Linked DNA regions of Homo sapiens: all the other regions are linked to region 1. Evidence: fine-mapped expression QTL. Tissue or cell type: whole blood. Region 1 holds a variant in brackets; each other region holds the start of a gene. Each region is shown on its reference strand, or each on the opposite one.

Region 1 (8,174 bases):
TGTGTCATGGTTAATTTTCTGTGTCAACTTGGCTAGACCATGGTGCCCAGATATGTGACCAAACATTATCTTTATATGTTTATATGAGGGTTTATGGATGATATTAACATTTAAATTGGTGGACTTGGAGTAAACAGATTATCCTCCATAATGTGGGTAGGCCTTACCCAATCAGTTGAACAGAACAGAAGACTGACCTCCCCCAAGGAAGAGGGAATTCAGCCAGCAGAAGCATCGGCTCTTCCCTAGGTCTCCAGCCAGCCAAAGCCACCCTATAGATTTTGGACTTGCCAGCCCCTGTAATCACATGAGCCCATTCCTTAAAACAAATCTCTTTCTACATGTATATACACACACCCCAAGGTTGTCTTTCTCTAGAGAATCCTGACTAATACACCTTGCAAAGCTGAAACTCTGTGCCTATTAAACCCTATTCTCCCCTCTCCAAATCCCTGGCAACCATCATTCTACTTTCTATCTCTATGAATCTGACTACTCTAGGGACCTCCTATAAGTGGAATAACATAGTGTTTGTCTTTTGTGACTGGCTTATTTCACTTAGCATGATGTTCTCAAGGTTCATCCATGCTGTAGCAGGTCTTAGAATTTCCTTCCTTCTTAAGGCTGAATATTCCATTGCATGTCTACACTACATTGTTTATCCAATCATCCACCAATGAACACTTGGTTGCCTCCACCTTATGGTATTGTGAATCATGCTGCTGTGAACAGGAGTGTACATATGTCTGTTTGAGTGCCTGTTTTCAGCTCTTTTGGGTATATACCCAGATATGGAATTGCTGGATCATATGGTCATTCTATTTTTAATTTCTTGAGGAGCTGACATACTGTCTTCCACAGCATCTGCACCATTTCACATTCTCACCAGCCATGCATGAGGCTTCCAATGACGCCACATCCTTGCCAACAATTGTTATTTTCTGGTTTTTGATACTGGCCATCCTCATGGCTTTGAGGCGACATCTCAGAGTGATTTTGGTTTGCATTTTCCTAGGACCTGTACTTTTAAACACCAAGCTCCACTGTCCCCTTGCAGAGAGGGGTCTTCAGGACACACATTCAAGGTCTTCAGGGCACTCACAGACTCGCGGTTGGACCTAGTGGGTTGGTAAGAGAAGTATGTGCAAAGGATCATGGAACAAGGAGCAAGGAGCAGGGACTCACACCTGGAGATCAGGAGGGCATCTCTGAGGAGGTGAATTAACTTGCCAAGACTGTAAGCAACTGGGGACCAGGCTTCCAGCCAGCCGGGAAACCTGTTACACACACACGTGGCATTAGCATGCATCTGTCTCCTGGGAGAGGACAGTGCTGGGTGGCAGAGACCTGGGAAGAAGCATGAAGCCATGGAAGTTGGGCCTGGCTATCTGTTGCAAAATGTTCCCTTTCTAGACGCGATCATGAATCATGGAGCTACAGCTATGGGAATCTTTGTTGAGGCGTGGATGTCAGCTGTGATTTAAAATAGGTAGGAATCGGCAGGCAGAATGAAGCTTCATTTTCATAGAAAACATATATTATGGCATCCTGAATCGAGGCACTGAGAAAGGGTGGCTGATGTCCAAGCAGGTGATGTACCAAGGAGACCAGGCAGTGCAGACAGGTACAGCTCTGAGAGAACACCAGGAAGGAAGGGGGAAAGGAAGGTAGCAAAGTCTCAGGATGTGTTTATGGGGCAGGCAGATAGCAACCTGGGAAGAGGGTCGAGGCCTCACAGACTCCCAAGACACTGGCCAGCCTGGGCCCAACTCCAAGCCACAGTCTCTGTGAATTGCCTGAAAATTGTCCTGCTGACATTGCTGCCCCCTGCACACAGGCAAGGGGGGAGCTGTGCCATGTGGCACTGCGTTCACCGAAGCTGCTGTGTTCGCTTCCTGAGGCCTCCTTTACAAAGTGCTACACACTGCATAGCTTCAAAACAGCAGAAATCTATTCCTTCACGGTCTGGAGGCTATGAGTGTGAAATCAGGTGTTACACTCCCTCTGAAGGCTCAAGGGAAGACTCTGTTCCAGGCCTTTCTCCTGGCCATTTCTTGACTTATAGACACAGCACTTCAATCTCTACCTCCATCCTCCCATCACCTTCTTCCTGGGTCTCCTCCACTCTGGGCATGTCTGTGTCCCTCCTCTTCCTATAAGGACAACAGTCATATTGGAGAACGGCCCACCCTAATGACCTCATCCTGATTTTATCCGCAAAGATCCTATTTTCAAGAGGCTATATTCATAGGTTGGGGCCAGGGCTAGGACTTCAACACAACTTTTTGGACTTCTTGGGGGGCGCAATTCAATTCATAACAGAGACCTTGAGTAAAATACTGTGTCAAAGTTGGGGGAGCTGAGGCTGAAATGAGGGCTCCTGGTATTGGGAGGGAATGGGGCAGTGCAGCTCTAATCAGAGCCCATGAGAGTGGACCTGTGGGTCCAGGCAGCTCTTACCCCAGGAGCTCTTGGATCCACCCTGTGCTATGTTTTGGAGATGTGTCATATCATTCAAAAAAGCCAAAAGAGGCTGGGCACTGTGGCTGACACCTGTAATCCCAGCACTTTGGGAGGCCGAGGTGGGAGAATCACTTGAGGCCAAGAGTTCAAGACCAGCCTGGGCAACATAGGGAGACTCCATTTCTAAAAAAAAAAAAAAATTTAATTACCCAGGCATGGTAGCAGGCCTGTAGTCCTAGTGACTCAAGAGGCTGAGGTAGGAGGATGCCTTGAGCCCAGGAGTTTGAGGTTACAGTAAACCAAGATTGTATCACTGCACTCCAGCCCGGGTGACAGAGCAAGAACTTGTCTGAAAAAAAAAAAAAAAAAGATAAAACATAAACAGTTTTGCTTTGTGTTACTTTATTCTTCGTGTGATTTTTAAATTTAAATTTTTCCTAGTCCTATAACAGTAAAATAGCTTTGATAGGACAGTAAACAGTTGACTTTTAGGAGACACTAAGAGCAACTGGGAACTCAGCCTTTTTCCATCAAACATGACTGTTTTGTTTGGTGTTTCTGTAAACTGTGTTTATGTGTCGGGGGTGGTGGTGTGCACACCAGGATTTACTTGTAGAGAGACATAGATGAAGGAAGGAGACAGCCTCCCGAGGAAGATGTTGCCTATGCTGGGGAGAGGGCTTGAAGGGGAGCCGGGGTGGGGGTTGGCGAGGTGGGTTGAGGGTGGGAGGGCTTCTGCTAGTATGTTCAGGGAGACAGATGGGCCGACTGAAGGCAGACAGGTTGGTGAGTGCGTTCACGGGACATGCTGGTTTCCAGTAGTGAAAGATTCTTTCTGCTCCTGGGACTCAAGAACCTGCTCGTAGTTGTTAACTCCAGGGTCCTGGGGAGGCCACCCATGCCCCACAGGGAAGAAAACTTCTTCACTCACTTACTGATCCTTGAAATGTCTTTTAACCAGAGACAAGTCTTGTATTTCACAGTCAGAGGGAGTATGCAAGACCCCCAGAAGAGGGCGCACGGCCACAATTCCACGCTGGTGGAAGGACTGGAATCCTGTCCTTCCCTGGGAACCCTCACCTGGGGAAGGATGAGTGAGTGTCACACTGAGGCCTCCCACAGTGGAGAAGCAGCAACGGAGAAGGAGGCCCCAGGAACCCTAAAGACAGAGACTTTAAGGTCGGGAGGGTTTCACAGAGGCTTTAGGAAACAGATTTATCCAACTGCCACAAAGGACTGAGCCTTCAGGCGTGGGATTAGGTCAGCCTTGGGGCAGGGGACATTC[T/C]TGGTCAATAGCAGGACTTTGATTTACGTAACGGGCTTATGCAATGTCATTACATAACATCATTAGGGGCATCGCAAATCGGATTCTATTTCAGGCTCTACAGGAGCCAGACCCAGGGCTCCCCTCCGGCCCAGCAAGACAGGATTCCCGTGGGCCCAGTGTCCCTGTCCTCGCTGGGATTTTCTCTCTTGAGATTTCACTGTGGGGCTTCCAGGAGAACTCCTAAGGCCTCAGGATCCTCTTTCTCCAGAATGATGGAGCTCGCGTCATAGCACGCTCATCCTTTGCAGATGCCTGCCCTGCTGCCCCTGCTGCCCCTGACCCTCCCAGTACTGTCCCCCCAAGCCCAGGCCAGTGGGCAACCTTCTCCTATCAGGTCCCCCTCTGACTTCTCCCCAACTCCTGCTTCCCCATCTATCCTCCAACTGTCAGGCTGATCTTCCTTATAACTTATTACGCCCCAGCTTAGAAACTTCTGCTCATCTGAATATCCAGAGGCCTTAGCGGTTGACACATTGTGCCACATTATTCTGTGTGTCCCTCTGGGGGTGGCAAGCTTCCCTGGCACAGAGCAGAGTGCCCACCTAGCCAGTGTGCAATACATGTCTGTTCTAACTCAAGGCTCTCTACAGTTGGCCCCAACAAACTTTTGAAACTTATTTTCCAAACCTCCTGGGTACACACCCTCCCTTACACCAAGCGGTCTTGTTCCTGTCTCCGGGCCGTGTGGTCCTTCCTGCCTCCTGCCCCGGCCTCCCTGGGCTTCCCCATCACAAAGTGCCTACTGCCCTGACTTCCCTTTTAAATCCTACCTATTTTTCGAGCACAGATGGGGGCCACCTCCTGGGGGTGTCCTTCCCCAATGATCCCAGCACACAACAATCTCCTCCTTTAAGCTGTCATGGTTCCTCTGCTTCCCACCTTACCAGATGTCGCCTGCAGTTGTTGGGTGTGTCCGCGTGTGCCTAAAATGTGTGAGTGCCTCCTGTGACTGAGGCTCCTACTTAATTCCCCTAAGCCCCCTTTGGTACGGGGTTGCTGTCCTCACTTCTCAGGTAAGGAAACCGGGGTTTAGAAAGGTTACACCCTTGTAGGAGCCTCATCTCTCCAGGCCCACTGGGAACATCTCGAGGGCGGAAGTCGTGTTTTTTTGTCTTGGTATTTCCAGGACCTGGCACATTTGAACACTCACAACACGTATGTTGAATTGTACAGGTGGAAGAGGAGCCTTTACAAGGCCTACCCATCTCAAAATCCCTCCCCTACCGGATAATCTGAGTGCCTAAAATCCACCCCTGCAGAGTTATAGCTGTGAACTAAGACAGGGTGACAGCAAACACAAATCCCAAAGTTAATAAATTCAGCGATCTATTTTTTCATGTGGCTGCTGAGATGGTTAAAGCTAAACTTACTGCTCAAATGCAATTATGTGAGTTAGATATCTGGTATGTTTCACATACTCTGCATGTCCCATTTAAAGCCTCACTGTAATATACCACCTTCGTTGGCCGTTACTGCAAAGTATATGTATTAGATGAGAAGAGAGCTACCTGAACTAAGAAGAGAGCTGAGAACCACACTCAGGAAAGCAGACAGAAAGGGGAAAGCAGGAATGTCAGTGTTGGAGAGGCCTGAGAATTTTCTAGGCTGTCGGTTCCTAACCTTTAGCAAACCACCAAGCATTTAGTTGTTTAAAGCTCCCTTCAGAGTAATGTGCATAGAAACAATGATTTGCACGTAATTTTAGAGGGTATGTGGACACCCTCTTTAAGCCCCTCTGTGGGCCCACATGGTCCGCAGAGCTGGTTTAAGAACCTCTGCTCTCATCCTGCATGACAGAACGGAGGCCTGGAGGAGAGAGGTTCTGCTGGGGCCTGAAGGGTGGGAGGGAGGGAAAGAGGAAATCCATGATTTTGCAGGGCAGGCCCTGCTGGCTAGTTTCCGGTTCTCCTTGTCATCTTGTGCCTGGGCTGCCCCTGGCACAGGAAGAGCCTGTGTGGCCAGAGGAACCTGCTTCCCCTCCACCCAGCTCTGCATGCCCCTCCCTGCTCAGCGGGCTGGGGAGGGTGGAGGTCCCAGGGTCCCACAACTAAGGTGGGCTCACATTCTGGGACCAGATCAGGACTCACAATTACCCCACAGGAGACTTCCACCCATCCCTCTCCCCAACCCAGATGGAAGCACACTTGCCTAGCTGGGCTGGAGGCAGATGACACACCTAGGGGGCCTGCCGGGGGCCTGGGTTGGGAACAGAAGCCCCAGCTCTGCACTCTGAGAGCTGTCCCTGAGTTATCCCCCACCCCTACCCCTGTGCAAAGGATGCTAATGAGAAGCTTTTCATTTCGCAGCTGCAGCAGCACAGCGTGCACACACTTGTCTCATTTTGCTGTTTCAGGAAAGAAAGCAGAGCTTGCTCACCCCTCGCCCCCACTTCTATTCCCAGTGAAGGTCACGGCTTCTCCTCAGCCCTGATTGGCAGCAGCCTTCTGAGGGCCAATGCTGGTGACCAGCAGTCAGGCTTCAGAGAGGGGCCTTCTGAGCTTTCCACAGCTCTGTGAGGAGATGTCCGAAGGGAAACATTGCAGAGTGGGACAAGGGGAGAGTCCAGAGATAAGAATTATCTATGTTGTTTTGTTTTTTTTTTTTTTGAGACAGAGTCTCACTCTGTCGCCCAAGCTGGAGCACAGTGGCACGATCTTGGCTCACTGCAGCCTCTGCCTCTTGGATTCAAGTGATTCTCCTGCCTCAGCCTCCTGGGTAGCTGGGATTACAGGCACCTGCCACCACGCTTGGCTAATTTTTTTTTTCTGTATTTTTAGTAGAGACAGGATTTTACCATGTTGGTCAGGCTGGTCTCAACCTCTTGACCTCAAGTGATCTGTCTGCCTTGGCCTCCCAAAGTGCTCAGATTACAGGCCTGAGCCACTGTGCCCAGCTGAGAATTATCTATTTTAAACCAAGTAGGTATTTAGGCACTTGAGAATACCCAGGGGAAAAATCTCACATCGCTGCCCGGATCTGCCTTTTGCAAATATTGCTTGTAAATTAAATGAGCTGGACTTGGGAAGTGGCAAGAAACAACTTTATTTTCTTCTTTCATCGTCGCATTCAAACCCATTCTGTTGTATCTGCCTTCTTCGCTATATCACTTTTTTATTGTGTGTAACAAATCACTCCGAAATTGAGCCACTTAAAACAACCTTTTATTTGCTTACAGTTCTGTGGGTTAGCAGTTTGGACTGGGTTCAGCAGAGTGGTTTTTGGCTGGTCTCACCTGGGTTCCTCCTTGCAGGTACAGTTACCTTGTGGCTCTTGTGGCCCAACTGGATCTGGGTGGTCCAAAATGGTCCTATTCTCATATCCAGTGGTTGGTGCTAGCTATTGGCTAGGCCTCTCTCTCCTCCTCCAGGAGGCTGACCCGGGCCTCCGACATGCCAGCTCTGTATTCCAAGGGGGCTGGTGCAGAATCTGTAAGGGCTTCCTGAAGCCATGGCTGCAGCACTCACACAGTGTCACTTCAGCCATATTCTCTTGATCAAATCAAGTTACAAAGCCCCCCAAGGTTTAAGAGGTGGGAAAACCGTCTTTGGTGGGAACAGCAGCCAAGACCCATGGCACGGTAGTGAGTGTACAGGGGCAGGAGAAGTTCTGGTCACACCCACTCCTGGACCATATGTTTGGTGGATCCTAATATATCTTGGAAGTTAGAATAGTCTCATTTTCAGTTACTAAAAAGTCTAGCACCATCTAACCCACAACTTCTATATCTCATCCACTCTGAAGCATCTCTCCAATCTCACTGGGGACTGCTGTGATGGGAAAAGGGGCCCAGGTCTCAGTGATCTCCATCTTGTTCTTTCACTGCTCTTCCTCACACCCTGGGCCCCAGTTGGCTCCCCCAGGGGGATGACAGGAAGGAGGGGAAGGAGAATGCCTCCCATCTGACCAGTGTTGTTGTCACCCAACCCAGGTGTCCTCTGTGTGGCAGGATGCTGCTGGAATAGTGACTTTGTCTCTCATGAGGTCCTTTGCTGAGTTCTTCTAGGTCACTTGCTCCCTGTATGGGGCTCCTCATTAGGGACTCCCTAATGAGGGCAATGCACCCTCTAAATGACCACGCTTCAGCTTCTGCTCTGCTGTGTACCCCACACAACTGCTTTCTTCCAGGGTTACTCACCAGATGCGCTATTTTCTCCCCTGCTTCTCTGTGCATTCCTTCCTTCCTTCTCTGTGGACCAGCTTTCCTGCTTCTTCACTCATAGAGCACAGCAAAGGTGGCCTCTCCATAGCTTCCACATTGACCAGTTACTGGTGTAGTCATTCAAACAATTGACTAACTTTCTCAATTCCAGACTCCTGGAAGAAAGAATCTAGCTAAGCTAAGGTCAAGTTGATCCCAGGGTTGTTCAGCTATGATCGTTGTCCT
Region 2 (8,167 bases), not on the chromosome of region 1:
GGAGGGGTTCCTCAGCTTCTCCAGGAACCTAGGTGCCACCTGCCACACCCAGGCACAAGCCAAGGATGCCATAAGCCTAGAGGAAGAAAAGGGAATTCTCGCCCTAGGATCAGGTTTCTGGGAGAGGGAACACCTCTACTGGGTTTTGAAGAACTAGAAAGGGTTCACCTGTAGTAAGCTGTCACTTATCACACCACTACTCAAAACCAAAATGGAAGGAAAAAATGACACACAATGCCAGTACCTCCATATGTCCATACATGTCAAATTTCCACCTGCCTTTCCAGCTCTTGTCTGGAGGGCATGGCTGTGAGAGGCACAGAGGAGGTGAGGCATAGCTCTCATCGCTGCCATGGGCTGCTGCCTCTGTGTTCCTGGCCTTCATGTTATCAATCACCTAATGGAATCTGTGCAGTGGCCTGCCAGGCAAGTGGCTTTCTGCCCATCTTACAAATGAGAGAAATCAAGGCTCAGGGAGGTAATGTGACTTGCCTCTGGCTAGTAGGTGAAAATGTCCAGATTTGAGCCCAGTCTCTCTGACTCCAGAAGCCCCTCTAGATGGAGGCTCACCCTAAGCAAAGGGCCCAAGGCTGGCAGGGTCTGATGAGATCAGGGAATGGTGGCTTTGGTGGTGAAGTATGTGGGGGAGATGACACTGGTGGGAGGGCTCTGAACTCCAGGCTGAGGACATTATTCAACAACCAGTGGGGTGCCAGGAAGGTCTGGGAACAGGAAGTGACAGGACAAAGAGCTGCCAAATACAGACAAGGCCACTTGAATCAGAATCTTCTAGTGAGTTTGTTAAAATCCAGATGAGGCCGGGCGCAGTGGCTCACACCTGTAATCCCAGCACTTTGGGAGACCGAGGCAGGCAGATCACTTGAGGTCAGGAGTTCAAGACCAGCCTGGCCAACATAATAAAACCCTGTCTCTACTGAAAATACAAAAACTAGCCAGGCATGCTGGTGGGTGCCTGTAATCCCAGCTACTCAGGAGGCTGAGGCAGGAAAATCACTTGAACCCAGGAGGTGGAGGTTGCAGTGAACTGATATCGTGCCACTGTACTCCAGCCTGGGTGACAGAGCAAGACTCTGTCTCAAAAAAAAAAAAACAAAAAAAAAAAACAGATTCCCTGGTCCCACCCACTGCGACTGTGATTCTGTAGGCTTGGAGAGGGCCTGTCAATGTGTATTTTCAGTGCCCTCCAGCCAGCTCTGATATGCAGCCAGTGTGGACTCTGCTCCCCAAGGGGGCTGACAGGAGGGTCCATACCCATGGGTCTGCAGCCTCCCACATTAGTGGCCTTGCCTTGGGCTGGAAAGCCAGTCCTGCCTTTGGGATATGAAGCAGCTGCTTTTCCAAGGCAGCTTCTCCCAAGGGAGACATCACTTTTGCCCTTGTGAGCTCTTCTCACACATGGGGGGCAGGTCTTGAGGTGGGACAGTTCAGGACACAGGCTTGGGACACAGATGGGCCTGGCTTAAATCTGGCTCTTCCACTTATCACATGACCTCTGTAAAATGGAGCTAATTTTTTAGGACCTACCTCGCAGGTTCATTTTGAGAACTAAATGAGACAAAGCATTTAAAAGCGCTTGGCACAGAGTTTGGCATATTTATAGGAAGCCCTTGATAAGTGTTCACTATTACTGCTTTTTTTTTTTTTAAAGCATGTGTCAACAAACAGCCATTAAAAAAAAATCTTAATGATAATATAGCTTATCAAATAGTTTCTTTAGGACTGATGGCAAAGAGAGGCCAAAAGGAGATCCAGATGGGGGAGGAGGAAGAGGGTCTGTCCCTGGGGAAAGATCTGAGTGGATGGTGCAGGGATCCTGGTCAGGCAAAGACCAGGAAGGGATGAGGTTGGCCAGGCCGCCAGATCACGTTGCTTCCTCTCTCCTGGCCTTGGCTTTCTCATCTGTAGTGTGAGGGTCAGCTGTGGCTTAGTGAAAGCGCACTAGACCTAGAGTAAGAAAGACCTGGGTCCAAATCCCAGCCCTGCCACTTACCAGCTGTGTGCCCTTGGGCCAGTCACTTCCCCTCTCTGAGCCTCGGTTTCCTCACCTCCTTCCTCACAGCATCTTTGTGAAGATTGAAATGAAATAATGTCCATGAAAGGGCTTGGCACAGGCCTGCCTCCCAGAACACTCGATATGTGCTAGGCGCTGTTCTATGTACTTTACAGAAATCACCTCATTCATTTCTTCCAACAACCCTCTGAGGAAGGGATTATTATCATCCCCATTTGCAAAACAGGGGAAACAGAGGCACAGGGAAGTTCAGCAACTTGCAGAGGCAGGATTTGAACCAAGCAGTTTTGCTGGAGAACCAGAGTTCTTCACCCCACACCACACACACTAGGTGCTTTAGGAAAGGCAGCTGGTGTTAACATTTTTCTCATCTGATCAGGAAGTTGGGTGGTTAGAGTTGTCACAGTACTTTGTGAAAAATGGGAAGATAAAATAATAATTATGAATTGAGGTGGGTTTGGTCAATTTTGTCTTTCAGCTAGGAAGGTGAGGAGGGACAAACAGCTGAAGGCCCTATGTGGGGGGAGGAGGGGTCGGGCCCTTGTTCTGGCTGCGTTGGGTGGGTGTCTGGTGCTTCACCCCTTCTAGGCCAGGGATGCTCACCCCAGGACGATGAGTTCACCATACTTGATGGGCTCCTCGCCTGGCTGCGCATCTTCACCGGGAGAGGAGAGAACGCAAGAGCCCTTGTTCCCCCGGTGCTGGAGGTCTGAGGTTCGGGGGGACCCCACTTCAGGGTTTCCTTCCAGCACCATTCTGGGCAGAGTGGGAGAGAAAAGAGCTTTGTAGGTTCCCACCCCAGCCCGGCTCAATTCCAGCTGCAGCCTGCTGCAGGGCCGCCTAGGCTAAGGCAAGGGTGACCTTTCACCGCCTCTACTGCTATGGCAACCACTTCCCCTCTGCCTCCTCTAAACTGCCCGAGGTTGCTGGGATACCAGGGAGGGGTGGCACAGTGAAGAGAGTCAGGATATTCAGTGGTGCCAAAGAGATGGACCAACTTGGGGTGGCCAGAGGCTGCTTTTTGGCCAAGATCCCAGTCTGGGATGTGCTTCAAAGCGGGGCACCCAATGAGTTGGGGGCCGTTACCCCTCATCTCAGACTCAGTTCCTGCTTATAGCTCTTAGCCTCTGGACCTCTGATTTAGCCTCTCTGACAGGTTCTTTGAATCTACCTGTCCATCTGAATCTTTCTTGCCCCTTTGAGGTCTAGGCCTCTGTCTGTCCATCTGCTTTCTCAATGACTCTCTGTCCTCCCAGCCGCTGTCCTTTTTGCCGTCTCTCTCCCCCCATTCCCCATCTCTGCCTGTCTGCCCGCCTCCGCCTCACCATCTGCCTCAGTCTCCCCATCTCGGCCTCCCCCTGCGGGTAGGCCAATAGACTCCTCCTGGGTGCGCGCTCTTCCCTCCCTCAGGTGTCTGTCTGCGTCCCCAGCCGCCCGGGTCTCAGGAGGCCTGCGGAGGCGGCGCTCCCCCCTCGAGCTCGGGCTGCAGCACAGCCGTCTCCCGCAGGCAGCCCGTTTGGAAAACATCCCCGCGCCAGAGGGACCGCGCCGGGGCAGGCCCGCGCCCTGCGCCCCGGGCGGGCAGAACGGGAACCGCGGCCCAGCACCTACGCAGGTCCACACCCGGCGGCCCCTCCGCACAACACGCGCGCGTGCACGGCCCCGCACGCCCCGGGCCCGGACGGCGCAGAGACCACCCGCACCCGCGACCGCAGGGACGCGCGGGCGCGCAGCAGCCACCGGCGCCCGCCCTCGGACCCACTCCCTCCACCACCCCCAGACACGCAAACACGCCCCCCGCGCCCGCCGGGGCCCGCCTGGCGCAGCCCCCGCCCCCTCCGCCCCGGCGGCCTCACCTGGCCACGCTCCGGGCCCCGCTGGGCGCCGCTCCCTCCCCGCCTAGCCCCTGCTCGGCCCCGGGCCGCTGCGGCGGGATGGGCCCGGCCCGCGGCGGCTCCGCGCTGCCTCGTCACGGGGACACCCAGGGCCGGGGGAGGGGGATGAGCGCGAACAGCCACGCTCCGCCCCCTGTCCGGAGGCCCCGCCCCATTTTCCCCGCCCCTAGGAGAGCTCCGCCTCGCTCCAGACTCCGCCTCTTGCGGCGATGCTCAGCCTTCGTAGGCGGAGCTCCGCCCCTTCGCAGGAGACCACGCCCTTCCCCTGGTACCGCCCTCTGACCAGGGAAGCCCCGCTCTCCACTCCGTCTGAGGGACTCCCTTGCCCCTCCTAGCCGGCTCAGGACTCCCCCGTAGTCTACACGACCCCTCCCCCATTTCAGACTCCCCAAACTCCGCCTCCATTTCCGGGGACTCCGGGGTTCTCCCAGAGACATGGGCGCCCCTCCCCACTGTCGGTCAGGGCCCTCACACGGCGCTGGAGGCCCCTTCCCTAGCCTTAGGCCCGGGACTACGCACCCCCAGCTCCGACACCCCGCCTACCATCTGGGGACGCCACGCAATTAGAGGAGAGGAGGAAAATGCTAAAGGCAAAGGGGGTGTGCGGCAGCGGTGGAGGCCGGGGAAAGCAGCTGCAGTTGACCAGAGTCGCAGACCTGTCTTCCAGCCCAGCTCGGGCACCCCCCATTCCCCTCCCCTCAGTCCCCTCCCCTCCGCCAGGATGCACACACCCCCCGCTGTGCTGCAAAGGAAAGAGAGTTTTGGGGGAGCACCGCCCCTTCTGGGCCTGGGGCTTGCGAGAGATCTATCAGTCTACGTTAGGCGCTGTGCGCTGTGCTTTGAGCAAATTAAACCCTTTACTTTAATCCTGGGAGGCAGGCACGATAGTTGCCCATTTTACAGATGAGGAAATAGATTTACAAAAGTGACTTGCTTGTTGTAGTTTGCTAGAAACGGGCCAAGAGAGAATCTCAGCTGTATGAGTGGCTTCAGTCTCAACTCCTAACTTCGTACCTTGTCGTTCTGACTAGGGATGGAGCCTCAGAGGTGCAGAAGAGAAACCTTGTCTGCATCAGGTAAGGTCCCTATTGCTCAGTACTCTTGGTCTGGAACTATAAAGGCTGGATTATAGTTCCAGATCAAGTCTTTGGTCTTGTGGGGGGCGGTGGGGGTGTTTAATGAGAAAATCAAGGAAGACTGCACAGAGGAGGTGGCTTTTGACTTCCATTATGAAGGATGCATGTTTAGTTTGCCTAAACATTCCTGAGAGGGAGCCGCTGCCACTCCCACCCCCACAAACTTGTTGCACCTGAAGTTCCCCATCTACCAGACTCCCCTGGGGCCCTACTATATCCACCCCGCTAACTCCTCCACCTAAAAATAGCCAAAGATACCAACTGCTTTGCCAACTGTTCTGGGGCCCAGCGGCTAGATGAAACAAGAAAGCAGCCGACGGCACATCCTTTAGGGGAAAAGACACTCGTTAGTCACAGAGAATCTCCCTGCGAGACTTCCACCAAGCAGGACACCACCAGACCGCTGGGCTGCTGGCTGCAGGTCACACAAACCCTGTGACACAGGATAGCTGCCCTCACTGATGCCACCAGAGGCGTCCATTGTGCTGGGTGTGCACGGGGACCCTGGGACAGCCTCACTCCCTTGTGTACCCCCAGCTTTTAATGCATTGCCTGCCAGAGCAGGTCCTCAGTGAATATATACTGAATCCCTGTTATAATCCCCAATTTACACACCAGGAAGCTGAGGCTCAGGCAGAAGAAGAAACTTGCCCCAGGTCACAAGCCAGGCAGATGTGGAGCTGATGCTTCACAGGAGCCCCAGTGCTTCCACCTGACACTGGACTGCATGGAGGAAGGTCTGAGAGGGATCACCAAGACTCACTGGAGGAGGAGGCAGGGATTTCTCCTGGGGCAGTACTGGGATTGGAGCTGCATGGTGGCACAGCCAGACCATCAGGCCTCAGGGAGGCTGAGGTGGGCCCGACACCAGGATTGCCCAAGTAAGGGAGAGGAAGGGAGAGTTAGGACACCAGTAGCAGATGCCTAAGTTCCAACCTTGGCTTCTGGCTCTAAATCCAGCGCTCTGCTCCAAGAACTCCAGCTTCTTAATCTCACTAAGCTTCAGTTTCCTTATGTGTAAAATGGGAATAATAATGATACTTGTGGTGAATAGGATTTTGCAGTATTGCTTTGAAATTCCTTTGTCAACCCTCCCTTTTCTCTCTTCAATCTAGATCTTGTCCCTGTTGGTTCAAAGAAAGGAATAAAATAGAAACTTTATTTCTTTCTTAAAAAATTTTATTATTATTATACTTTAAGTTTTAGGGTACATGTGCACAACGTGCAGGTTTGTTACATATGTATACATGTGCCATGTTGGTGTGCTGCACCCATTAACTCATCATTTAGCATTAGGTATATCTCCTAATGCTATCCCTCCCCCCTCCTCCCACCCTACAACGGTTCCCGGTGTGTGATGTTCCCCTTCCTGTGTCCATGTGTTCTCATTGTTCAATTCCCATCTATGAGTGAGAAAATGTGGTGTTTGGTTTTTTGTCCTTGCGATAGTTTGCTGAGAATGATGGTTTCCAGCTTCATCCATGTCCCCTACAAAGGACATGAACTCATCATTTTTTATGGCTGCATAGTATTCCATGGTGTATATGTGCCACATTTTCTTAACCCAGTCTATCATTGTTGGACATTTGGATTAGTTCCAAGTCTTTGCTATTGTGAATATTGCCGTAATAAACATACGTGTGCCTGTGTCTTTATAGCAGCATGATTTATAATCCTTTGGGTATATACCCAGTAAAGGGATGGCTGGGCCAAATGGTATTTCTAGTTCTAGATACCCCTTTTTTTTTTTTTTTTTTTGAGACGGAGTCTCGCTCTGTCGCCCAGGCTGGAGTACAATGGCACAATCTCGGCTCACTGCAAGCTCCACCTCCCAGGTTCACGCCACTCTTCTGCCTCAGCCTCCCGAGTAGCTGGGACTACAGGCACCCGCCACCACGCCTGGCTAATTTTTGTAGTTTTAGTAGAAACGGGGTTTCACTGTGTTAGCCAGGATGGTCTCGATCTCCTGACCTTGTGATCCGCCTGCCTCTGCCTCCCAAAGTGCTGGGATTACAGGTGTGAGCCACCACGCCCGGCCGAAACTTTATTTCTTTAATTCTTGGGTTCTAATGCCTGAAGGGGAGAGGCTTGGAATAGTTTGGAAAAGTAGTTGTATATCTAGTTGAGAAAACATGTGGAAAAAACAAAACAGGGCTGGGCGCAGTGGCTCACCCCAATGCTTTGGGAGGCCAAGGCAGGAGGATCGCTTGAGGCTAGGAGTTTGAGACGAGCCTGGGCAACATAGTAAGACCCTGTCTCTACAAAATTAAAAAAATTAGCTGGGCATGGTGGTGCCTGCCTGTAGTCCCAGCTACGCAAGAGGTTGGGTCAGGAGAATCATTTGAGCCCAGGAGATCGAGACTGCAGTGAGCTATGATCACATCACTACACTCCAGCCTGGGCAACAGAGTAAAATCCTGTCTCTAAAAAAAATTAAGAAGAGAAAAAAACAACAGCAGCACATTCTTTCTGGGCTGGGAGATTTGGAGAGGAGAAGGAAGAGCTAAGATGCTAGGTTCTGCCCTTGAGGCCATGCCAGACGGGGAGGGTGGGGTTGGGAAAAGACAGATCCCTCACATGGATTTGGGGATCCAGAGCAGAGGCGACCTGGGCTTCAGTTCTCGGTCTCTAGCTTTAGAGGAAAGCCCTTGAAGCAAGGCCTGAGAATAATAATCCATGGCTCTTGGTCTCTTAGTTCTACTTCCTGAGTCATCTTTCATTTTCCATAAAAGGTAGTCTGTGTTTGCAGCTGAGTAATTTTCTTGGCCTGCATCCTGTCTATAGAAGTTTGAGGGTTCGAATGCCTCTTTTCCATTTCTGTTGTCTCTGTCCTTTACAGTCCAAGTTGTCAGTGTTTCTGCCAATACAATTCTCTTAAAAACTTTGTAGATTTCTATGGACCTTATTCACTTCATTAGACTATGCCCACAAATCTCTTTGAGATAAGCCCCCCTACCTTGGGCTCATGCTGATAGACAAATCCTTTAACGTTTCTAGAAGCCCTTATTGTTTGAATGGTTCTATTGCCTTAGACCTGAAGTCTTAGGGAATTTACAGGCATACTGTTGGCCTCTTGGCTTCAACTTTATACCATGTTTTTCTGA
Region 3 (8,174 bases), not on the chromosome of region 1:
CCAGGTTCAAGCGATTCTCCTGCCTCAGCCTCCCGAGTAGCTGGGACTACAGAAGTGCACCACCACACCCGGTTAATTTTTGTATTTTTAGTAGAGACGGGGTTTCACCATGTTGGCCAGGCTGATCTCAAACTCCTGATACACCCGCCTCGGCCTCTCAAAGCACTGGGATTACAGGTGTGAGCCACCGCGCCCGGCCCTTTTCCTGCCTCCTAAACAAGTGGCCAGGAATTCTCCTCCTGCACCGGGTCCCCAGATTGTGTGGCAAGCCCTGCAGATGGCACAGGGGACTGGTTCTTCCTCGTGGAAAGCCAGGCCCGGACACCTCTCGGGCATCGCCTGTTGGGGTGACCCTCCCACACCCAGCCTGGAACCCTAGCCAGCTCAGCCTCCGTCCGCTGAGAAATCAAGGTGACCTTGTGGCTCAGCCCTCAGGGGGCACTCACCACACAAGAGTTCCCTTTCAAGACCCCCTGTTCGGGGCTGGGGCCCCCAGGAACGGTTGGGGCACCTTCCTGGGGCCCTGTTTTTCCCCAGGAGCGGGGCCTGGGAGCTGAGGGCGTCTCATCTCCCCACAGGCATCTGCTGCTGCTCCTGGCTGCCACTCACCCCTGTGAGATGCTGAGGGCAGGATACCTGTCTGTGCGGGGCGTGGGAAAAAGGGAGAAAGCCTGGCAGAGGGTTGGGGGCTAAGAAGCAAAGGGCGTGGAAGGGCCACCGTGCACTTTTGAAGTCTCTACTTGCCAGTGGCCACCCCACCTCTCCCTGCCCTCATCCAAGGACGGACAGGCCTGGCAGGTGGACCGGAGCTGTGGGGCAGAAGCATCCCAGGCCTGGCCTCAGAGGAGGGAGGCCATGGTGAAAGTGGAGGCTGTCTGCATCCACCTCCCCAGCCTTTGTCACCGGGACCTCAGCCTGACCCCAGGCCCACCCCAGGCTGCTCACCGAGGTGGGTACCCTGCCCACCGCCAGCTCAGATGCGGTGTGTGGACTCCCTTCTCTCTGGGGGTGAGCGGGAGTTCCCTCCCCTCCACATCAGGAGCTGGGGGAGAGCTGGAGGGCCCTGGGATCCCCTTGACCCTGGTCATCAGCCCCAGCCCTGACAGGCCCTGCGTGTGCCATGTGTGGCCTGGGTTTGGAGCTCAGCACCCTGCGGGAATTCTATTAAATCTCCGATTTTATCTGAAAACTTCACCCACATGTTGCATTGCTCTGTGAGGCGTCTGTGTGTGTCCAGGCAGCAGTAACAACGCTACTAATGCTGGCGGCCATCACAGGAAGCCAGTCCGAACGTCCCCCAAGGGCCTGTTTCACCCTCATGACACCAGGCGTGGCAGAGACGAGGAGCAGAGGCCTGGACCTCTCAGGGTCTCAGCAGGGGGAGGCCGGCCTGTCACGAGTGTTTGATGACCATGGAGAGGAGGTGGTGGAGGTAAGCGTGGCTGCTTCCAGGGGAAGGGCGGGCAGTGCTGGGGGAGGGGTTCTGTATTGATTAAGCACGTACTGTGTGCTAGGTCCTCTGTGGGCTTCATTTAATTTATTGCCACAGCCACGGGAGGGAGGGGTGGTTAGCGCTATATTTCAGATGAGGAAACGAGGCTCCGGTGAAGACACTTGTCTAGTCCTCTGGCTGTGGAAGGTGGGAAAGGGATGTCAACCTGGGCTCGGGAGAGATAAGGAAGCTGAGGCCTAGAGCCTTGTCAGGCCTGGAGCTGCTGTCCTCCCGCTGGGGCAGCACCGCCTGCCTTCATTTAGAGCAGCAGATCCTACAGCACCCGGGTCCTCACCTATCAAAGGCAGACACCATTCCTGACCACGTGATGGCCTGGACGAGACCAGTGTCTGGGTGTCTGGGTGTCTGGGTGTCTGGATGGGAACTGGGAGGGCCCGGCCAGGCCCGGCACATGGTGACTCTGCCTGCCCTTTGCAGCTGAGAGCTGGCCTCTCCTAGACCTCAATGTCCACTGACACCCAGTGCCCCTGCAACCTTCTCTTCCTGCCCCACGAAGGTGGCACTCTCCTGGGGGCCGCTCCAGCCCTCTGCCTGGGGAGCAAGCGGAGGGGCCTGGGACCCCACCTGTGTTCCTGTCTCTATCCCTCCTCAGCTGTCACCAGCTTTAATTACCCCGGCTCCATCCGCCCCGGCCCCTGCGCAGCTGGAGAGCCCCTTGGGCGGGCGCAGGGCCCCTCGCCTGGGCACGCAGCATTCCTGCATTCCTCCCCGGGGCCCACCGACCTGTCCTGCCGGTTGTGGGCAGCTTCCGGGTGCGGGGAGCCCGGCGTGTGTTTGGGGGGGTGCGCAGCTGCTGGATGGGGAGCCTGGAGAGAGCCCGGCTGTGCCCCGGGACTCCCAGCTGCGTTGCCCACATCCCTCTGCCACCCCGCATCACGACCGGAGCCTGGCAAGAAGTCAGTGATTCATCACTCGGGCCCTGGGGGCTGCCTGGAGGGGCTGGGGTGCTTCTAACAGCAGGAAAGGGAAGGCAAGAGAGAACCTTCCACAGTTGGGAGCAGCAAAGCGGCCCAGGAAGCCCCCCAACAGGATGGGACCATCTAAGGTTCCAGCCACCCCAACCCCCCGGAGCAGGGCCCCCAGCCTAGTGGTATGTGGATAAGCCCTGCCTGGGGTGCACCTTCTCGGGGAGACCCTCTGCTCTTTGGGCTACTGTCCTGGGGAGCCTCCCCCTTCCTGGGGCTGGGTGGACCAGCTGCGGAATGGCAGCTCCCCCTGGAGGGGCTGGGGAAGAAGTGGGGCGTGCTGTCCACCAGCTCCTCCCTACCCCGAGGCGCCCCAGATGATCTGCCTCCAGCTCCAAACAGGAGTAGTGGCCACCTGTGAGTTTCTCTGAGGCCCAAGTGGTCACTGCCGGAGCTGCCTGTGTCCCTGTGTCCGGACAGGCTCCTCTCCACCTCTGTGTTTGGGCAGCTCTCCCCTTGTGTCTGGAATTTTTAGAAAACGGAAAAAGTGTAGACAAAAGCAGGCTTTTTATCTCGCTGAATGCTCCAACACCCTCCCTAGTTACACCACGGTAGTGGAAGATTCAGAGGAAGTTTCCTCCTGGTGGCCGTGATTACCATCTGCAGTTCTTGTTCGGGGACATTGCAAAGGTCACATTGTCCGTCCAGCCCCGCCCCGCCCTGACGTTGCTCCCGGAGTGGGGACGGGCTCTGAACCACCCCAGCTCTCAGGGGCCCCGCCCTGGGTAACACACGTCTGCGGTGTTACCCACGACTGCCTGGGACCTGGCCAAGGGCTCCACACACCAAGACCAAGGTGAGGGGAGGTGGTGGGTGGGGACCAGCCCTGCCTCTCTTGGAGACCCCGAGGGTATGGCGCCAGGCCAGCCTGGAGTCGGGTGTGGGGCGGTTAGTGTGAGCATTACGTCTTCTTTTCCCTAAAGTGGCTGAAAATGTCCCCGGGGCCAGTCCCTCAGGGCACCCTGCTGGACTCAATGCAGCAGAAAGAGTTGGGGTGTTTGGCCGGGTGCGGTGGCTCACGTCTGTCATCCCAGCACTTTGGGAGGCTGAGGCGGGCGGATCACCTGAGGTCAGGAGTTGGAGACCAGCCTGGTCAACATGGCGAAACCCCATCTCTACTAAAAATACAAACATTAGCTGGGTGTGGTGGCAGATGCCGGTAATCCCAGCTACTCCGGAGGCTGAAGCAGGAGAATCACTTGAACCCAGGTGGCGGAGGTTGCAGTGAGCTGAGATCTCACCATTGCATTCCAGCCTGGGTAACAAAGTGCGACTCCGTCTCAAAAAAAAAAAAAAAAAAGAGAAAGGGTTGGAGTGTCCCATCCTCAGGGCAGGGGTCAGAGCTGCATCCCTGGGGTGCCCTGAGCTTGGGGGTCATGATAACCTTCACCCTGCATGCAGCCCAGGCCCACACCTAGAAGTCTTGTGGCCTTGAGCACACTGCGTTGCCTCTCTGAGCCTCGGTTTCTCCATCTATAAAATGGAGAGGGTAACAGTGAGAGATTGCTATTGGCTGGCTTCGTTCATTGGGCCCTAAATCAAACAGTGGCTTAAATACCAGAGGCTTGCTCAATGGGTGGTGGGCAGGCAGCCGGGCTGGGGCGGCGCCCCCCCCATCTCCACGGTGTCCCCACCTCTACAGTGCCTCCCCCTCTCCATGGTGCCCCCCCACCACGGCCTCCATCCCTGGGGTCCAGGTTTCATTTGTTCCTCAGCAAATGCTACAGAGCTTTTGTAGGCCCACCAGCAGGAGTGGGGTTGCCAGGCAGTGAGCTAGGGGGTGCTGGGAGGGCCCGAGGGGAGGCAGGGCGCATCCTGCAGGGTGCCTGTGAGGACCTGGGCTGAGGGTGGGTTTGAGCAGAGGCTGACATGGTCTCACCCTCTGGCTGCTGGGTGGGAACAGACCATGGGGAGGCCAGGACGGAAGTGAGGAGAACATGACGATCCCGGAGAGAGATAACCCGGATCGTGGTGGAGACACAGGAAGTGGGGAGAAGTGGTCCAAGCTGTGGATATCTGAACATGGACTCAACAGAATTTCCCGATAGATTGGATGAGGGGTGTGACTGAAAGGGAGAAGTCAAGGATGGTTCCATAGCAACCGCAGGAGCTCCAGCCATTGCATCTGCATTCCAGGCAGCAGGAAGGAGAAAGGAGGGAAGGTAAAAGACTACTGAAAAGCTTTCAGCTGGGGCTGGGCATGGAGGCTCACACCTGTAATCCCAACACTTTGGGAAGCCGAGGCTGGTGGATCACTTGAGCCCAGGAGTCTGAGACCAGCCTGGCCAACATGGCAAAACCCTGTCGCTACAAAAAATACAAGAATTAGCCATGTGCACCTGTGGTCCCAGGTATGATCTCACCACTGTACCTCAGCCTGGGTGACAGAGTGAGACCCTGATTCAGAGAAGGGGGAGGGGAAGAGGAAGGGGAAGGGGAAGGGGGACGGAAGGGGGAAGGGAAGGGGAAGGAGAAAGGGAAAGTGAAGGGGGAGGGGAAGGAGAAAGGGAAGGGGAAGGGGAAGGGGGAGGGGGAGGGGAAGAGGAGTGGAAGGGGAAGGGGGAGAAGGGGAAGGGGAAGGGGGAAGAGAAAGGGAAGGAGGAGGGGGAGGGGGAGGGTCTTTTGGCAAGCCATGAAGTCGGCCCAGCCCTTCTGCTTATATTGCTCAGGTTGTAGTCACAGGACCATGCCCGGTGCTCGTGAGGATGGGGAGGTGATTGCTAGCTGGGAACTGCGCACTCAACAATGACAGGGAGATGCCTCTGGGTGGGGAAGGCAGTGCATGGACGCTGGTCAGCCGGCCACTCCAGGCAGTGGGAAGGTGCTCAGAGGCCCGAGGAGTCAACTCTGGTGGGCGCTGGCTGTGCAGCCGGTGCTGGTGGCCTGAACACGGCAGAGGGCCAGGCCGGGCCTCACTCAAAGGAAGCAGGGAGACAGGAGCGGGGCTGTGGGCTTCTCTCGAGAGCTGCCAGGCAGCCAGGCAGGCTGGGAATGACATTTGCCATGCTGTGCCCCCGGCTCTGGCACTGGGCGGCTCCTGAGGCCCAGGGAGGAGCGTGACCTGCCCACGGGTCCACCATCATCGAATGCGAGTCAGAGTCAGACCAATGCTGTGGCTCCAGGACAATGCCGTGTCCCCTCCTGGGGCTCAAAAAAGCATGACAGGGATTTGGGGGACAGGGGTGTTCACTTCTGCCCTCCAACAGGCTGAGGGGGAGGGTCTGGTTTCTCTGCTCACCTGTGCTGAGACGGTGCTGGGGAGAGGCAGGCGGGAGCCCCAGCCCCCTCCAAGTGTTTGCCAGCCCAGGCTCTGTCCTGTCCAGGCATGTCCTGTCCACCTGCCTCCCTCTAGGGACCGTGGGGGCAGGCCTGGAGCACTGAGCTCAGGGCCCCGAGCCGTCTAGAGGGACAGCTTCCTCACACCATGCACCTGGGCTGAGCTCAAGTCGCTGCAGCCCCTGACCCCCAACTCAGATATCCCTTTGCAGCCCACCTACTACCCAAGAAGCTGCTGTGTAGGGACAGAGCCCACCAGGGCACTGGGGACACGTGGCACAGGCCAGAGAGCTCCTGAGGCCTGGGAGGCTGCCATGTTGGGTCCCAGATGGACACACCCCAGTACGCCCAGTCTCAGGGCCTGAGCCACCCACTGGTTCTAGAATTCTCTCAGGAGAAGAGAGCCCCTCACGGCCCCCTTCATCACAGGCTGCGCGGCCTCAGCCTGGCCAGCCCCGAGACCCTTCTAGCTTGCGGATCCCCCTCCTGCTCCCCCGACCCTGACTCTCCCAGAGTGGACTGGCCAGGTCTGGGTCTGGTCTGCGGGCAGGAGCCCTGCCCAGGCGGCCCCCAGGGCCGGCCCTCCTCTCCCCGACTCCATGCACGTCTATAAACGCCCTGCACAACCCAGGGCCTTTGCCCGTGCATCCTCTGCCCGGGCGCCCTCTACACCATCTGCTGAACCCGGGTGTGCTCTCTGGGCCCCTCTGCAGGTGCCTCCTCTGCTCCTTTGGGAAAGCCCCACCTGTCTTGAGGTCCCCCACACCTGTGCTTCCCAGCACCTCGGAGACCCCAGAACCACTGAACAAAGAACACTGGGGTCCTGGGCTGCCACATGGAGGACCCCAGGGTGGCAGGCTCACAACAGCACAGGTGTCCTCCTACAGCTCCCAGGGCCGGGAGCCTGAAACCAAGGTGTCCACAGGGCCCTGCTGCCCCCAGAGGCTCTGGGCAGAGCCCTTCCGCCTTTCCAGCTCCCCCTGGTTCCCGTGCTCCTCGGCCTGTGGCCCCATCACTCTGGCCTCTGCCTTCATCTCATGTGAGTTTCTCCTCCTCTTCCATCCCTTATAAGGATGAGGGTCGTTGGGCTTAGGGCCCCCTGGGATGATCCGGGATGACCTCATCTCCAGATAACCTCTCCATGACAGCTGCAAAGACCCTTGCTCCAATTCTGAGATTCTGAGATTCTGGTTGGACATCACATATTGGAGGCCACCATTCCACCCACTACACAAAGAAACCCTCCCCTCCAGAACCCCTTTCCCTGTCCGACCAGCCCTTTGCAGCTTTCACACCCCCTGACAAATTTGGTTCTGTTCCCTTATTCTACCCCCTGCCCTAGGCCGAGATCCCTGAAGCGGGCCCAGCTCCGTTCACTGCTCCCCCGGCCTCCTGCTGTTTCCCACACGCAGCCATGGTACAGGGCAGCTCATCCCACCACCTCCCCAACCGCAGCCTCCAGGGATGTACACCCTGCCTCAGGGGCTGTGCCTGGGCCCTGGCTGGTGGAGGGCACAGCCGTCAGGGAAGGCCCTCAGCTGCAGGATGCCGTGCCTCAGAGACCAACCAGGCCCTCGAAGGCACTGTGGCCGGCCCAGATGTCAGCAGCTCCAGCAATTAGGCTGGGACAGATGGTGCCTGGTGACACAAGGGGACTGTGGGGGCCACAGGGGACCCTGCTCACCTGGACCTACCGTGGAGGCCAGGGAGGGAGATGGACTCGAAGGGCGGAAGGGCCCAGAGAAGGCACATTTGCAGAGCAGCGGCCGCATTTCCAGAGCTCGGGAGCCCAACAGGAATCCCGTCTGGCCATGGGACCACCGCCCTTGGGGCTGGGGGATGCCGCAGGGGACGGCAGAGGGCAGACAGGCCAGGAAAAGGGGAGGGCAGAGGGCAGACAGGCCAGGAAGAGCGCCTGCAAGTGCCCAAGGAAGGGACCAAACCCAGGCCCCTGGACCAGAGCGGCCGCCTGGTGGGGCAGGCTGGAAGGGGCCAAGGCCAGCGCCAAGGGGGAGCAGGTGAGGGACCCTGGTGGGCATCTGTGGGAACAAGGCCACGTTTCTCCCTGCGCACGCTTTAATCAAGGACATTCCTGTGGTTCTCCAAAAGTGTCGCACACTACATGGGTGTCGTGAGCTGGGCTCCGTGAGAGTGTGCGGGTGGCTGGGGGCAGCAAGGGAGCAGCAAGGCCTCAAACCCGGGCGGCGGCCTGGCCTGCGCGCCAGGATGTGCGGTGTGAGTTTCCCGAGCTGCAGGAACAAGGTCCACAGACTGGGGAGCTTCACACAACAGAAACTGCCTCGCAGTTCCCGAGGCCAGAGCCCATCGGGGTGGCTCCCTGAGGCCGTGAGCCCGGACTGTCCTGGGCCGCCCCCTCTTCCACAGGCTGAGATCATCCTTGGCGTCTGTTGGCCTGCGGC

What was found. PIP is the estimated chance that this variant, and not a neighbour inherited with it, causes the effect.
Region 2: PELI3 starts here. The variant in region 1 is fine-mapped to the expression of PELI3 in whole blood (TOPMed, PIP above 0.99).
Region 3: it holds the start of LINC00482, and the variant in region 1 is fine-mapped to the expression of LINC00482 in whole blood (TOPMed, PIP above 0.99).

Annotation. Positions count from the first base shown.
Region 1 is chr7:149,749,149-149,757,322 of GRCh38, reverse strand. No RefSeq gene overlaps it. Among named protein-coding and RNA genes, the nearest start is that of ZNF467, 20 kb to the left of the region's middle. The variant T/C (reference allele first, on the strand shown) is at 3,749.
Region 2 is chr11:66,462,749-66,470,915 of GRCh38, reverse strand. PELI3 (pellino E3 ubiquitin protein ligase family member 3) reads right to left here and starts at 4,011. Exons shown (of 8, transcript NM_145065.3): 1 at 3,889-4,011; 2 at 2,636-2,788; 3 at 2,012-2,083. The coding sequence starts at 2,787. RefSeq lists silencers at 3,524-3,873, 3,884-4,093 and enhancers at 5,045-5,544, 5,545-6,046.
Region 3 is chr17:81,304,285-81,312,458 of GRCh38, reverse strand. It overlaps LINC00482 (long intergenic non-protein coding RNA 482), which reads left to right and starts at 3,211. Exons shown (of 4, transcript NR_038080.1): 1 at 3,211-3,274; 2 at 4,615-4,829; 3 at 6,642-6,793; 4 at 7,097-8,174. TMEM105 (TMEM105 long non-coding RNA) reads left to right here. Exons shown (of 3, transcript NR_165247.1): 3 at 1-1,194. RefSeq lists an enhancer at 2,788-2,847.